Regions from separate parts of the Homo sapiens genome. Here region 1 is linked to region 2. Evidence: fine-mapped expression QTL. A gene starts in region 2. The other region holds a variant in brackets. All regions are shown on one strand. Distances are between the middles of the regions.

What was found.
Region 1: its variant is fine-mapped to the expression of CUL9 in left ventricle (GTEx, PIP 0.97).

Annotation. Positions count from the first base shown.
Region 1 is chr6:43,684,572-43,692,900 of GRCh38, forward strand. It overlaps MRPS18A (mitochondrial ribosomal protein S18A), which reads right to left and starts at 3,220. Exons shown (of 6, transcript NM_018135.4): 1 at 3,097-3,220. The coding sequence starts at 3,208. LOC124901320 (a long non-coding RNA gene) reads left to right here and starts at 4,391. Exons shown (of 2, transcript XR_007059586.1): 1 at 4,391-4,768; 2 at 5,100-5,322. RefSeq lists enhancers at 2,974-3,033, 2,979-3,590. The variant G/GC (reference allele first, on the strand shown) is at 4,536.
Region 2 is chr6:43,178,189-43,186,517 of GRCh38, forward strand. CUL9 (cullin 9) reads left to right here and starts at 4,008. Exons shown (of 41, transcript NM_015089.4): 1 at 4,008-4,061; 2 at 6,114-6,717; 3 at 7,268-7,422; 4 at 7,767-8,267. The coding sequence starts at 6,123. SRF (serum response factor) reads left to right here. Exons shown (of 7, transcript NM_003131.4): 5 at 106-297; 6 at 618-694; 7 at 907-3,318. The coding sequence ends at 1,002. RefSeq lists enhancers at 1-176, 177-676, 3,679-3,748, 8,192-8,329 and silencers at 3,999-4,138, 4,159-4,208.

The DNA.
Region 1 (8,329 bases), 510 kb after region 2:
AGAATGAGTCGTCTTACTGCTGCACAAAAATTTCTTCCCACTAGCAGGTTACTCTGGACTATGTCCCCTGAATTCTTTAAAGACTCCAACTCACTCCTCTCTCAAAGCTTTTATATGGGACTGCCCAACCTGCCAGGCATACCCTTGTCTGAAACGTTAGGTCTTCCAGAAGGCCTTCTTAACTGACTGTGAAAGAGATGAAGCAAATTCCCTTTGGCCTTTACTCACTTCAATATACCTTTCTCTAAGTGTCTGACAAATCATGTCTTAATTTATATAATAATATGTTTGTTTTTTTATTTTAAATACATTTCCTTCACAAGGGCTCTAAGAGGGATAAGGGAGGAATGAGATCCAACACAGTCTTTGCTAAATCTGGCAGTGCCAACCATAATGGCACTAAATGGTCTTTGGCAAGTTAACTGCTAAGAGCTTTCAGGGAAGGAGGGAACAATAAGGGAGGCCCTGCCATGGAATACCAAGGTGATGTTACTGGTGGAGAGGGAAGAGGGCTGGCTCTACTTCCAACTCCATCACTTATTAGACAGGTGATGCTGGGCAAGCTATTAAACCCCTTGGAACGGCATTTCCTCATTTATAAAAATGAGGACAGTTAATATCTACCTTTAAGGTGTTTTTGAGAAGACTGAATAAATGTATGTGGAAAACCTAGCACAGTATTTGAAGCAGGCACAGTAAGTCACAATTTCTATTTTCGTCCTCCTTCAGTCTTGCTTTTCCCATAATAACCTTTTTTTGGCTTTGTGTATCTCTCTGGTCAAACTTTAAACCAGGCTTTCTCAACAGCAGCAGGACTGCCATTTTGGGCCAGATGGTTCTTTGTTGTGGGGAACTGACTTGTGCATTATGTTTAGCAGCGTCCCTCGCCTCTACCCCCCAGATGCCAGTAGTACCAGTTGTGACAACCAAAAATGTCTGCAGACATGGCCAATTGTTACTGGGGGACAAAATTGCCCCCCAGTTGAAAATCACTGTTTTAGACTGAAAGTCTTCATAGACAGGAAAATTGGTGCTCAGTCCTCAAGAGCTGACTAAAATTATGTATTATTATCTGATACTTTGAAAAGTAGGATGCCTGAATATTTTCAGCAAGAGAACCAGCTTCTTTCCCACAACTTTAAATTCTATGTGTACAATATTGTTTGGGTGTCACATATACCAGCTGAGACTAGTCAAAATTAGCTATATGTATAATACTTTATGCCTTACACATAATGCATAGACTAGCAAAAGAAAATGTTTTCATTTACAAGCTTTGAAGATAGGTGATTCTTAAGAATATAGAATATGGTAGTGCCTTCATGTAGAATCATATTAATTCAACCTAACATTTAGATGAAGGACTTCAGAGACCCATTTGATTTACAGTCCATCCTTTTTTACTTTTTTTAAAGAGGTGGGCGTTCTCACTACGTTGCCCAGGTTAGACTCCAATTTCTGGGCTCAAGTGATCCTCCCACCTTGGCCTTCCAAAGTGCTGGGATTAAAGATATGTACCACTGTACCTGGCTTACAGTCCATCATTTCACAAACTCTCCAAAGGAAAAAATTAAGTCTAACTTCAAATATTTGTTGTTAAAACAAAACGATTCCTCTTGCCTTTTTTTCTGGAAGCATAGCAAAATCTGCCTCAACTTTGAATTTCATAAGAATATGCAAATTGTAGCCAATAGTGTTTGACACTTGGTAGACTCCCCAAAATGGTATGGAGATATGCCTATTTTGCAGCATGGGAACAAATGAAACATCCAAGTCCTCTCTATCATCTGCATGATTTCTTTAGTGTCTTTATTAATGGGTCTACTAATGGATAAGTTAATCAGGCAATATCCAGACTTTTTTTTCTAGCAAATGCTCCACTTCCCTTACGGGCTAAATTCTTCAAACATACTTACTATTTCCATCTCTTCATCAACTATCTCTTTCATTTCTCCAAACTGGATTCCTTGTTTGCCACTCTATTGAAATTGCTGTTTGAAAGCTACAAAGAGACCTCTTCTGAGACAAATCCAATGGCCCCTTCATTAGGCCCTTTTTAGACTTTTCTGCTCCCTCTGACAACAATGATCACTCTTTTCCACTGGATACTTCTCAGCTTTCGTTAAAGGATATGCTGCCCAATACTATGCCAGATCCTCAAAAAACCCCACATCTCTTCTTTTGCACATCACTCATCCTTTCCTGCTTCCAGGAGTACACAAAGGAAGGCTATGTCCTAAAAGACCGTTTCACTCTCCGCCAGATTCCATCCTTTTGTGAGCCTGCTCAAGACACATCCTCTTTATGAAAACTTCCAACTGGGTTTGCCGTTTCCAGTAACTGAGTCTCCCTGTACTTCGTCACGTAAAAGGCTAACTTGCATTTATTGGAGTGTGTATATACATAATCTCATTAGAACCTAAGCTTTTCAGAAAAAGGGCTGTATTTTCTGTCTCCAGAATTCCTTCACAGCTTGAAGCATAGCACTTGGCATTCAGTAAACTCTCAGTTGATGCTCGAATCAGGCCGCTTTCCCAGATTAAGATTAATGAAAAGCTGAACTACCATCCTGCATTTGCCTATGTCTCAGCTATTCAATGGCCTTTCCACTTTGGCCTCCCCCTCACAGGGAGACTAGCGGCCCGGGGCAGAGAACGCCGCCATCAGATCACAGCATTTTGAGAAGGGAAAGTGGAAAGGGAGGCTCTGGGAGGGTACCCAGATGGCCTTCCTTCGTGATCCAGAGACTCTTTAATAAAAGAGACTGCGATTCGGAGAACATGGAAGGAAGAATTAACATGCAAACCCTTTCCGAAAACTTTTCTGAGCCCTAGGACAGGTTTAGTGTCTGCTCCTGCTAAGTAAGCAGGCTTTTCTCTCCGTCCTCCTCCGCCTTGTGAAGATACTCACAAGGGGCAGGAGATCAAGATAAGGCACCAGGGTGTGGAAGGGGCTTTTAAGCACGCCTGGGGAGCCGGTACCTCCAAAGTTTCAGAATCGGACGAAGGAAAGGTAGGAAGGAGCGCACCGGGGCTGGCGGAAGCAGTCTCTGCCGCTCTTCTTAATTTCAGGAGGTTGCTGGGACGCATGACTCACCTTCCCTGAACCCGCGAGCTGGAAGCCGAGACCAGCTGGTCGCTGCCGGGCCCGCTAGTAGCCCACGGAGAAGCCGCCCACAGCCGGACACCAGAGCCTTGAGGGCCGCCATCTTCAAAAACCTACCCTGACCTCTCGTCCATTTCCGCTTCCGGAACGTAGCGCCCGCCGCCGCAGTGGTGGGGCAGGAACGGCGGGGCGGGGTTGTAGTTCGCTTGCTCCTGTCACATCATTTCTCTCACCTGTCCGCTTTGGGATACGAAGAGAGGCTTCTGCGTCAAGCCTATATTTCGTGTTAAGGATCTAGGGGAGGTCTTCTAGCTCCTGTCTGCCAATGCCTACAAGTCTTCAAGGTTGCATTCGTTTCCTGGAAGGCTTCCTTAGGAAAATCGCACGCAACACCCCACCTATGTCTTTAAAGCTTTCTCTTCACTGCACGTGAGCTGTGGACTTTTAGCTTCTGTGACTGGGGCTAGACCTCTACGGGAGAGGCTGAAATGGTTAGGAACTCTGGCTCTGGAGTATCGGATATCAGGCAGACCTGGGATAGAATTGATACCCCCTTCTTCCCTGACCACTGCCACACTGATCTTTGATTTGCATATACTTAGACCTCTCTCTAGCCCCAGGGCCTTGATACAAGCTATTTCCTTTGTCTGCTCTTTAGCTGTCTAGTTAGCTTCTGCTTATTTCTTAGAGCTCACCTCAAACCTTATTTCCACAGTTTTGCTTGACTGCCCATTCTCAGCACCAGATGCCTCTCCATCTTAGTGCTTGGGACAATTTCAGTTTTATGTTTGTTTTGTATGTGTCTTCTCACCAGACTGTAAGCTCCATGAAGTCAGGAACATTGTTTTCTGTTGACTCGCACATCTCCAGCACTTAGAATAGTTCCTGACACATAATAAGAGTACAATATATACTTGTTGAATGAATGAGTAGAATCTATTTTATAGGGCCTAGGGGAGGACTAGACCCTGAAGATTAGATGTGATAAAACATAAGTGATCGGCCGGGTGTGGTGGCTCATGCCTGTAATCCCAGCACTTTGGGAGGCTGAGGCGGGTGGATTACCTGAGGTCAGGAGTTCAAGACCAGCCTGACCAACATGGTGAAACCCTATCTACTAAAAATACAAAAATTAGGTGGGTGTGGTGGCGGGCACCTGTAATCCCAGACACTTGGGAGGCTGAGGCAGGAGAATCGCTTGAACCCAGGAGGCGGAGGTTGCAGTGAGCCAAGATCACACCATTGCACTCCAGCCTGGGCGACAAGAGTGAAACTCCGTCTCAAAAACAAAACAAAACAAAACAAAACAAAACAAAAGGGCTCAATAAACATAAGCTAGTTAATAGAGCAGTTATGGAGATGACTCTTTTCACAAGTTGGACTCACTTGTGTTGTAAGGAAGCTTATGGTACCAAAGAGAAAATACAACT[G/GC]CCAGTTTTTCCTCTTTCAGATTTGTGAGACGTATAGGATGTTCCTCTGGAGCTCCACAGGAAAGGAAAATCATTCACAACTCAGTTCTTCCTATCCTTCTCTGATTCAAGATGGGAAAATCAGGCTTATTAAATGACATAGCATGTTTTCTGATGAGTAGGAGAGGAGCCCATCATCCAGTTGGGACCGTCACCCTAATAGGAGGATGCAGAGCAGCTGCTGTATGGAAAATGTGAGTGGCATCACCATAGACAGGGAGAACAGGAGAAATGCAGCATTGGGTTACGTTAAAACATCTCATTTAGCAAAGGTAAACCCGGTGAAGGGGAAACTTAAAAGAAAAGTCAATCAAGGTGGTAGAGACTGACACATGGATTAGGAGTGAAGCAGAGGGTCTTAGTGAGGTGTAGGTCTAGGTGTCCCAGCCAGGATCAAGAAAGCTTTGACTCTCCCTATAGCTTCCAAGTTTGTTCTGCATAGATGACCTTGAGCTTATAGATGTATAGATGACCTTTTGTGTTTGTACTACATCCTCTGTTTCTTCACCCATTTCCAACTTCCAGGAATCCAGTAGAGACAAGGGCAGCAACAGAGCCCCACCCAGGGCTTGCTTTGGACACAGTGAGCTAAAGCATTCGAGTGCCAACCCTCTTCTCATTATCTTATCTTAACTTATCATAAACAAATTTTATTTTAAAAAACAACTATGACAGGTAACATGTGATCATTGTAGAAAAATGAAACAATAAATAAAGTAAAAAGAAAATAAATGTCATCTAAAATCCAGAGATAAGCATTGTTTACATTTAGCAAGATGAAATAATACTGTGGATATTCTTTGCCTTATAATATCTTATTTTTCTGAATCCATTTATGATTAGTCCCTACAATTCTGTGAGACCAGGTTTGGATCAGGAGACTAGCTTTAAAAAACAACACATCTTTTAATTAAAGTATTACCTGTGTAAGAAAAATACACAGGCTGGGTACAATGGCTCACGCCTGTAATCCCAGCACTTTGGGAGGCCGAGGCAGGTGGATCACTTAAGGTCAGGAGTTCGAGACCAGCCTGGCCAACATGGTGAAACCTCATCTCTGCTAAAAATACAAAAATTAGCTGGGCGTGGTAGGCTCCTGTAATCTCAGTTCCTCAGGAGGCTGAGGCAGGAGAATCACCTGAACCCTGCAGGTGGAGGTTGCGGTGAGCCGAGATCACGCCATTGCACTCCAGCCTGGGCAACAGAGTGAGACTGTCTCAAAAAAAAAAACAAAAAACCCAAACAAACAAACAAACAAAAAACAACAAAACACACAAATCATCAGTGTACTGCTTGATGAATTTTCGCAAAGGGACACACTACCCATACTGGAGTGGAGTGGCATGTTCAAGCAGAACTTGACTGGCACTCTAGAACACCCCATTGTGTCCCCTTCCAGACACTACCCCGCAAGGATAATCATTATCCTGACTTTTAGCACAATACATTACTTTTCCCTGCATTTGACCTTTATATAATATTCCACTGTGAATATACTATATTTTAAAAAATCACTTTTTTTTCTGTTGATAGAATTTAGATACTTGCCACTTGGGACTACTACAAAGAGTGCTGTAACGTTCTTCTACGTGACTCTTGGTGAACACAAGAACAAACTTCTTTGGGGCCTATCTCGCGGTAGAACTGTTAGGTTGCAGGGTATGCCTATGCTCAGCTTTAGTAGAAGATATTGCCTTGACAGTTTTTACAAAAGCCTTTTTAAATTAAATTTTTTTTTTTTGAGACAGAGTCTTGCTCTGTCACCCAGGCTGGAGTGCAGTGGCGTGATCATGGCTCACGGTAGACTGGACTTCTTGGGCACGGGTGATTCTCCCACCTCAGCCTCCTGAGTAGCTGGGACTACAGGTACATGACACTATGCCCGGCTAATTTTCTGTATTTTTTGCAGAGGTGGGGTTTTCCCATGTTGCCCAGGCTGGTCTTAAACTCCTGGGCTCAAGCAATCTGCCTGTCTCAGCCTCCCAAACTGCTGAGATTACAGGCACGAGTCACCATGTCTGGCCCAAAGGCCAGGCTAGATACTGTCAAACAATTTTCCATAATGATTGTACCAGTTTACTCTGGTATCAACTGTGTGTGACAGTTCTAATTGCTCCACACCTTGTCAATATTTGATTTTTTTTTTTGGTATTTTTAATCTTGCCATTCTGGTTGGCGTGTAGTAGGATCTCACTGTGTATTTATCTTACATTTCTCTGATGCTTAATGAAGATGAGTAACTTTTCATATGTTCATAGACCATTTATTTATATTTATTTATTTATTTATTTATTTTTGAGACAGAGTCTCACTCTGTCCCACAGGCTGGAGTGCAATGGTGCGATCTTGGCTCACTGCAACCTCCGCCCCCCAGGTTCAAGTGATTCTTCTGCCTCAGCCTCCCGAGTAGCTGGGATTACAGGTGCACCCCACCATGTCCAGCTAATTTTTGTATTTTTAGTACAGACAGAGTCTCACCATGTTGGACAGGCTGGTATGGATCTCCTGACCTCCAATTATTCACCTGCCTCGGCCTTCCAAAGTGTTGAGATTACAGGCGTGAGCCACCACACCTGGCCAATAAATTTCAAGCGTGCAGTTTATATAGCAATATAGGTCATTTAGACATCTCTTTTGTAAAATGTGTGTTTAATATTTTGGCTGATGTTATATTGGGTTGCCTGTGTTTTGCTTTTCTTTTTTCTATTTATTTATTTATTTAAAGACAGGACTTCCCTGTCACGCAGGCTGTAGTGCAGTGGCACATTCGTGGCTTTCTGCAGGCTTGACCTCTCAGGCTCAAGTGATCCTCCAACCTCTCAGCCTCCTGAGGAGCTGGGACTATAGGCATACACTATGATACCCAACTAATTTTTTTTTTTTTTTTGAGATGGAGTCTAGCTCTGTCGCCCAGGCTGGAGTGGAGTGGCATGATCTCGGCTCACCGCAACCTCCGCTTCTTGGGTTCAAGCAATTCTCCTGCCTCAGTCTCCTGAGTAGCTGGGATTACAGGCTCCCACCACCATGCCCAGCTAATTTTTATATTTTTAGTAGAGACGGGGGTTTCACCATATTGGCCTGGCTGGTCTCGAACTCTTGACCTCTGGTGATCTGTCTACCTCGGCCTCCCAAAGTGCTAGGATTATAGGCATGAGCCACCACGCCCAGCCTGATACCCAGCTTGTTTTTAATTTTTTTGTGGAGACAGGGTCTCACTATGTTGCCCAGACTGGTCTCGAAGTCCTCCTCTCAAGCGATCCTCCTGCATCAGCCTCCCAAAGTGCTGGGATTACAGGCATGAGCTACAGCTCCTGGCCTGTCTTTTTCTTATTGATTTGTAGTTCTTTATATATGCTGGATACTTATCCTTTCTTGAATATATGTACTTCAAATGTCATCTCCCTCTCTGTGGGTTGCCTTTTCATTCTCCTGTAGTTTTTTTTTTTATGAGGAGTATTTAAAAAATTTTAATATAGTGCAATTTATCAGTTTTTTTCTTTTATGGTTGATGCTTCTTGTTTCCTTTTCAATTCTTTTTCTGGCTGGGCGTGGTGGCTCATGCCTGTAATCTCAACACTTTGAGAAGTTGAGGCAGGACGATTGCTTGAGCCCAGAAGTTTGAGACCAGCCTGGGCAACAGGTGAAACCCCATCTCTACTGAAAATACACAGAAAAATTAGCCAGGCACGGTGGTGCATGCCTGTAGTCTCAGCTACTCAAAAGGCTGAGGTGGGAGAATCACCTGAGCCCGGGAA
Region 2 (8,329 bases):
CCTGGGAAATGGCAAGAGGGCTCTGGGGGCCTGGAATTCCTAGGGACGGAATGGGAGTTATCAGTGGGGACCAGTGCCGAGCTGACACATGTCTGTGTTTGCCAGTGACGCTGCCCGCCACCATCATGACGTCATCCGTGCCCACAACTGTGGGTGGCCACATGATGTACCCTAGCCCGCATGCGGTGATGTATGCCCCCACCTCGGGCCTGGGTGATGGCAGCCTCACCGTGCTGAATGCCTTCTCCCAGGCACCATCCACCATGCAGGTGTCACACAGCCAGGTCCAGGAGCCAGGTGAGTAGAGGAGCAGGGCTAAGGAAAGGAGGACCGTTTCCTTCTTTATACACACACACACACACACATACACACACATATGCACTGATGCCTACAAATATTTCTACCCAAATACAACACAGACTTGGATGCTCACACACACATTTGGACACCCCACTTGGACACTCACACCCGCATGCACCCTCAGACACACTGGCACCCTTTCCCTTGGGCTCTTACATCTGAGACTGCCCCAGTCACTTGTGCATTTGACACCACTCCTCCAATATCTGGAAGTTTCAACAAACAATTTGAGTATCTCCTGTGGTTTTCCAATGTAGGTGGCGTCCCCCAGGTGTTCCTGACAGCATCATCTGGGACAGTGCAGATCCCTGTTTCAGCAGTTCAGCTCCACCAGGTAGGTAGGGATATCTTTCACCCCATCCCAGATAGCCACTTCTTTGTCTTGACCTTAGGGGATCCTGTTACCAGTTCATCAAAGCCAAAATCCCTAGCCTGGAAGCCCATCTGCTTTTCTGCTCAGGCCTGTGGTTGGCAGGCAGGGAAGCCAGGGGAGCCTGAACTGGCTGGCCAGTCCCTGCCCCTCCTCATACATCCCCTTCCCTCCAGATGGCTGTGATAGGGCAGCAGGCCGGGAGCAGCAGCAACCTCACCGAGCTACAGGTGGTGAACCTGGACACCGCCCACAGCACCAAGAGTGAATGATCCGCCCGCCGCCCTGGACAGATGGCCCAAGGGATGGCACCACTTATTTATTGTTGCCTTTTCACGTTTTCTTTACACACACGTTGACGGGCCGCAGGAGGGAGGCGGGGAGGAGGAACGGGCAGCCACAGGACTGAGCCCTCTCACTCCAGCCAAAGAAATGGGCCTGCCTGCCTCCACCCGTCCTCCCTCAGCCTCCCCTTCTTCCCGCCCCACCTCCCATTTCTGTTGCTGGAGGGGCTGTCCTCCTTCCTGGGACCCCCTCGCCAGCTTGGCTCGATGTTTGCCATGAGTATTAGCTTACCCAATGGGACCGTGCCCCACCTCCCCACACACAGGCCTTCTGTGGGGCTGGGCACCGTGTCCTCCTCTGAGGAAGCAGTTGGGGCCCTCTTGCCAGCCTCCTTGCTGACCCCAGGTCAGCCCTGTGTCTGTCACAGGCTGGGTCAAAAGAGCCCTGGCTCTGCCCCTCAGGGGGCCAGCTGGGGAGATGGGGGCTTCTTCCTCACACTGCTGTCCTCTCCCCCTTCAGCTCCTGAGTAGCTGGGCCTGTGCACTGGGCAGGTTCCTGGGGCCGCCTGCCCTGCCTTGCCGCTCCCCTTGGACCTCCAGGGGCTCCTGGGTTGGAGGGAACCACCAGCGTTCCCTTCTCCCCCTTGTCTTCCCCCCTCTCCTCCCAGCTGCTTTACTTAAAGTTGATTTTGAACTTTTTATTTGAGGAGACGAAGTGAAAACAAATCTATAAATATATATTTTTAAAATATTTAACTTTTTTTTATGGCGTTTTTCTCGTCCCCCTCCCTGCCCAAACTCCCCTTCCCTGGGGAGCCCTCAGGCTCCCCAGAACTGGCTGGGCCCCTGGGGACAGAGCCACCCCATGAGCTCGGGGTCCACCAGTGTGTGGGGGAGATTCTGGGTTTGCCCAGTCCTGGGTTGTTTCCAGGAGAAAGCCGGGGGAGGGGCCCTCAGGCCATTCCCCAACGGGGTGGGGAGGGTGACCCACAGCTCTGGGCCTCTTTTTGCCCTTTAGGGCTGTTGCTAGGGAGAGGGAAGAGGGAGACCAAATGTCGGGGTTGGGGTGGGAGGGCGTCAGGCAGAGGCAACTGACTTCATTTGTGCCACACGCATGGGCATTGCAGCCTTGCGCTGTCCCAGGCATGCAGCTGCCTGGGGCCCAAGTTGCAGTGAGCAGGGTGGGGTCTGGGAGGGGGTGAGAGGCAGGAATGGGGGTCAGAAGAAGTGGGAGCAGCTTCTTGGGCTGAGTGCAGCCAAAGGGGAGCCAGAAATGGGCAGTTCTCCCAGGGAGTGAGCAGCTACTGTAACTTTTTTAAATTAAGACAAAAAGCCTTGAAGAAAATGACTTTATTTTTCTAAGTGTAACCTCAGTATTTATGTAATTTGTACAGGGGCCATGCCCCACCCCCCTCCTCCCCCTTTGGGGTAGACCTTGAGGGTGGGCCAGCATAGGGGGGAGGGTCTTTTACCCTGTGTCAGAGCCTACCTTCACCACCTATATCCAGAAGGGGAGCTTTTTCAGAAACAGGGCAGCAGTGGGGTGAAATTTTCTTAACCCCTAAGACTGCCTTCAGTAGGAACAAGCTGGCTTCTGTGATTAGGTGAAGGGATGGGGGAAGATTTTATGCACAGCCTAGTTATCAAGGGGATGATTTGCCGACATGTTTGAGAACCCCCTAACCTCTAACCCTCATTGCTGTCTTGCCCCAGTTTGGGGTGCCAAGATGGAAGTCACCTTTCTGGGCTTTCTCCTGGAGATAGCTGGGGCTTATGGGTGGCTTTCAAGGCTGGGGCATGGCAAATCAGGGGCCAGAGAGCAGGGGAGCTTGGGACTCAGGTCTGTAACTGCCCAGCCCCTTTTCTCTGCTCTTGTTTCACTCCACCATCACTCACTCACTCCCCACTCCCCCACCCATGGGGAGGAGACCTTTGATGAATTCTTCCTCTCCTTCCCACAAAAGACAGACCCAGTGAGTGAATCAGGCAAAGTGCTTATAATGTGTGTTGTGTGAGCGTGGCCTTGGGAGGACATGCGTGTGTCAGGGATGAGTTGAGGTGATATTTTTATGTGCAGCGACCCTTGGTGTTTCCCTTCCTCGGTGGCTCTGGGGTATGTGTGTGTGGGTGTGTGCGCCTGAGTGAGTGTGTGTGCTTGAATGTGAGTGTGTATGTCAGTGGTTTCTACTTCCCCTGGGATGCTGACCCAGGAATAGTGGACATGGTCACAGTCCTATGTACAGAGCTTTCTTTTGTATTAAAAAAAAATACTCTTTCAATAAATGTATCATTTTTGTGCACAGACTGTGGGGTCTTTGGTTCTGTTTTTCTACTTAGGGAGGGATGGGGGTATGAACGCGAGGCAAACTCCTAAAATTGCTGCTCTGAGTAGCGATCCGGGCTGCTTGATGAGAACGGTAATGCTAAGGTGTGCTTTGGGCTGTTTAATTCTATACGATTTAATTTAAGGAAAGTTTTGCGGGGCCGAGGACCTTCTCCCTGTGCGTGGCTTCGCTAGGTGTTAAGGCCAACGCAGAGGAGCAAATTTTAATTAACAGGAAAAGTGACACAACTAATCCAAAGCATTGCTGAAGGGTTTGGGAAACTCATGGGCACCTGACCTACTGAAAAGTCAAAAAGGGCAGCCTTAAGGTGGGAATGTGGGTTACCATGTTTCGTCAGCATGATCGCTGTGATGGGAGAGGGAGGATTAGGAGGGCCGACCCAGTGAAGAGGAGGGGGCTTCACAGTTGACTGGATGGAAACGGCTTCTTCCTGCTGCTGAGAGAGGAGCAACGTGACCTCGATCCCAGGCTCCTCCGGTAGCGCGCCCCCACGCCCCTCTTCCAGTGCAGCCGCCCGCGGTAGCACGCATGCTCCACTCGCGCGCTGTTCCGCCACGCTCGGCGTGGGCCGCGGTGGGACCCGTAGGTGCCCGGCCGTGCGTGCACTCGCCGTGTGACCCGGAAGGGAGCTCTGAGGAGGCGGGGCCAGGACGGCGGGACCGGCCGCTGGGTCCCAGCGAGGGCTGAGCCGGGCGGTGGGAGGTGAGAGGAGAGTTCTGCGCCGACCCAATCCCTCCCCTTCTCCTGTCCCCTCCCCGGTCCTTTAGCCACTGTCCATGGGGCTGACGAAGGGAACCAGGTCTTGCTCTCTGAGATTCACTGGATCTTTTCAGCTTTTTTGGACCGCGCCCCCAACCATCCTTCCCCCTCCCCCCAAACCCGTTCCCTCTGCGGTGCTGGCCTCCTCCACCTCCCCACGGCTCTGCAAGCTTGGGCTTGACCTTGCTATCTGCTGGTCTCATCCATGCGTCCAGAGCTCACCCCCACACCTCAGTTTATTGTTGCTCTTCTAGGCCGACGTTACACCTCCTACCTCCTCCTATCCGATTCTTTTACTTCCCCCTGCTGCTAATCAGTTGCCCGCTGGCACATCGCTGGCTACCATCCAGGCTTGCCCCCCATCCTAAGTGGACCCCTACCTCCATTGAGGTCCACATCCATCTTTCTCCCTCCTCTTCACCTCTACTCTCATCTTCTGTCCCTGTACCCCAACATGACCCCTGCCCTGACCACTATATCTTCATCTGGGTTTACCTTCTTCCATTCTTATTCTCACTATTCCCTGTTGCCCCTGCACTGCTTCATATCACGCATATCTTTCCTGATTATTCCACTCCCATTTATAATCGGTCTTAATAACTTTGCATTTATTTGATGACTCCCCTACCTTCTCCATCTAAGAATAATAACAGATTATGTTTACTGAACACTCTTTATGTGCTAGATGCTGTTCCAAGTGCTTTACATACATGATCCTACTAAATTCATGAAGTAACTATGAATATTACTACCATCTTGCAGAAGAGGAAACAAGCTCAGAGGTTAAGTAACTTGTTCCAAACTATGCAGACAGTGAGACAGAAAGCCAGAATTCAGAGTCACATTTATCTGATACTGAAGTCTCTGAATATTGCTTCTCTCCTGACCTCATTTCCTACCTTTAACCCCATGATTACCACCTCTATCTTATCTACTTAACTTACTTAAATCCTTACCATACATGCAGTATAAGGGCAGGGTGGGACCTGGTCATCTTTCCCATAATTTTATCTGGTCCCTAGGGCCCTCCCCCTTTCACAAGACTCGAATATACTTTTCCTATCCAGTCATTTGCCCCAACATCCCAGCCTTTTGTCATCTCCATTCTCTATATCTGCCATGGCCCACCCTTTACATCCACCTTGCAGCTTTACTCTGTCATTTATGCTCCCTGTCCTGCCCCTCCGCTATCCTACTTTTCCTCACATGTTCTGATCCCACTGCCTCACATGCTGCTGTCCTTCCTGTCCACCCATGTCATTCTTCTAAGTCCTAATCTGTAACCCTCAGCCACCCTGCTATCCTGCCTAAACTGTCTTGCTTAACTGTCACTCTGTTTATTGTTACTTTGCCTATTACTGTTTTAATTCTCTTTTTGTAAACTCCCCTTCCTTCCTTTCTTCCTTCCTTCCTTCCTTCCTTCCTTCCTTCCTCTCTCTCTCTTTCTTTCTTTTTTTCTTTTTTTTGACAGAATCTCACTCTGTTGCCCAGGCTGGAGTACAGTGGCGCGGTCTTGGCTCACTGCAACCTCCGCCTCCTGGGTTCAAGTGATTCTCCTGCCTCAGCCTCCTGAGTAGCTGGGACTACGGGCATGTGCCACCACACCTGGCTAATTTTTGTATTTTTAGTAGAGACGGGGTTTCACTATGTTGACCAGGCTGGACTTGAATTCCTGACCTCGTGATCTGCCCACCTTGGCCTCCTAAAGTGCTGGGATTACAGGCGTGAGCCACTGGGCGCAGCCAACTCTTCCATTTCTTAAACCCCTTCTTCATCCCCTCTCTGTCTTCACTCCATTCTCCTTCTGTTATAAATCCCAAAGTATGTTCAGCTATTTATTCCATCCTATTTTTTGCCTTTTCTGTTTGGCCTCCTAAATTCTACCATGCAGCCTACCGATCACCACCCACCTTCTCTGTGTCTCAAGATTCCACCCCCTCCATGTATTTTTTTTCTTTTCTCATACTGCCTTATCTTTCTCCTTGTGTATCCCAGGAGGTCAGGATGGTGGGGGAACGGCATGCTGGGGACCTCATGGTGCCCTTAGGGCCTCGGCTGCAGGCATATCCTGAAGAACTCATTCGACAGAGGCCTGGGCATGACGGGCATCCTGAATACCTGATCCGATGGAGTGTCCTGAAGTGTGGGGAAGTGGGCAAAGTGGGTGTGGAAGAAGGCAAAGCAGAGCACATCCTCATGTGGCTGTCGGCTCCTGAGGTCTACGCCAACTGCCCTGGGCTGTTAGGTGAGCGGGCACTATCTAAGGGACTTCAGCACGAACCAGCTGGGGTTTCAGGAAGCTTTCCTCGAGATCCAGGAGGCCTGGATGAAGTGGCAATGGGAGAGATGGAGGCTGATGTTCAGGCGCTGGTACGCAGGGCGGCCAGGCAGCTGGCAGAAAGTGGGACCCCAAGCCTCACGGCCGCTGTGCTTCACACCATCCACGTGCTCAGTGCCTACGCCAGCATCGGGCCCCTCACTGGTGTCTTCAGGGAGACAGGAGCCCTGGACCTGCTCATGCACATGTTATGCAATCCTGAGCCTCAGATCCGCCGGAGTGCAGGCAAAATGCTGCAGGCTCTGGCAGCCCACGATGCTGGTAAGAGACAGCCAGGGAAGAAGGAAAGGAATGGAGAAAATGGGGCCACAGGGAATAAGAAAGAGGAGAGATTTCCTAGCTCTGTAAGAACACCTAGTATTTGGTGAATATCAATTTGATGCAAAGGAAAAAATATAGATTAATAGGCTATTTCAGGTATATAAAGAGGCTAAAATGATAGCCTCTGGCTTATCTGTTCATTCTCAGTGCATTGACCAGAGAAGAGAATAGGACTTATCTGTATTTTTGAAACTGGATTGAGATTTATTAGTTGGTTTTGAAATCAATTTGGTGGGTTACAACCAACATTTTTTTAAAAACTTAAGTCATTAGTGTGTAGCACTTAGTAGGGGTAAATTTTGTAGCATAAAATATATGTTTCAGTTATATGTATGTATGTTTGTAACAGGTTACCATGTAAAATGTATTTCTTTCTGTGAGCCTTAGTAACAAAGTTTGAAAGCGTCTGGGGTAGGAGATAGAATCTAGGAAAGGCAGGGAGAAAGTACTGGGGATTGAGGAGAAGATATGGATTGGGTATGGATTACAGGGAGTCGGGCTCACGTCCTTCTATCACTGAGCCAGCAAGATGGCATCGAGCAGCACATGGATTTTGACAGTCGCTATACATTGCTGGAGCTGTTTGCAGAAACCACATCCTCTGAAGAACACTGCATGGCCTTTGAGGGCATTCATCTGCCTCAGGTACACTGCCAGCTGTAGGGAAATGCTGTGTACAAGGGCTAAGACATTATTTATGAAAACGTGGTTCAGGACTGAATGTTAGCACCAGAGCCACCTGGGAACTTGTTAACATGAAGGTTCATGTCCTCCCTCCCAGCCCCTCTCCATTCAGAATTTCTGAGATGAGAACCCAGGAATCTGTGTTTTAAGACACTCCCTATGCCTTTCTTACACAAATCAAAGTTTCAGAACTACAGGCCTGGGGAGAAGGCCTTTATATTTTTCTGTAGAGGAGGATACTTCAGGGAAGGGGAGAGGCTAAAGCCAGGAAGAGATGAACCTGTCCCAAGGATTGTGTCTTACAGATCCCAGGAAAGCTGCTTTTCTCCTTGGTGAAGCGCTACCTTTGTGTCACGTCCCTCCTGGATCAGCTGAATAGCAGTCCAGAGCTGGGAGCTGGAGACCAAAGCTCCCCATGTGCCACAAGAGAGAAAAGCCGGGGACAGCGGGAACTGGAGTTCAGCATGGCTGTGGGCAACCTCATCTCTGAGCTTGTGCGGAGCATGGGCTGGGCCCGGAACCTCAGCGAACAGGGCATGTCACCTCCCCGGCCAACCCGGTCCATCTTTCAGCCCTACATTTCAGGCCCCAGCCTTTTACTCCCCACCATTGTCACCACCCCCAGAAGACAAGGGTGGGTCTTCCGCCAGCGCTCTGAATTCTCCAGCCGTAGTGGCTATGGAGAATATGTGCAGCAGACACTGCAGCCAGGGATGCGAGTGCGGATGCTGGATGATTATGAGGAGATCAGTGCTGGGGACGAGGGCGAGTTCCGGCAGAGCAACAACGGCATTCCCCCTGTGCAGGTGGGCAGCACATGGTGGTGAGACACTGTTGGGAGTTTATTTGGGGTGGGGTGTAGCTGGGA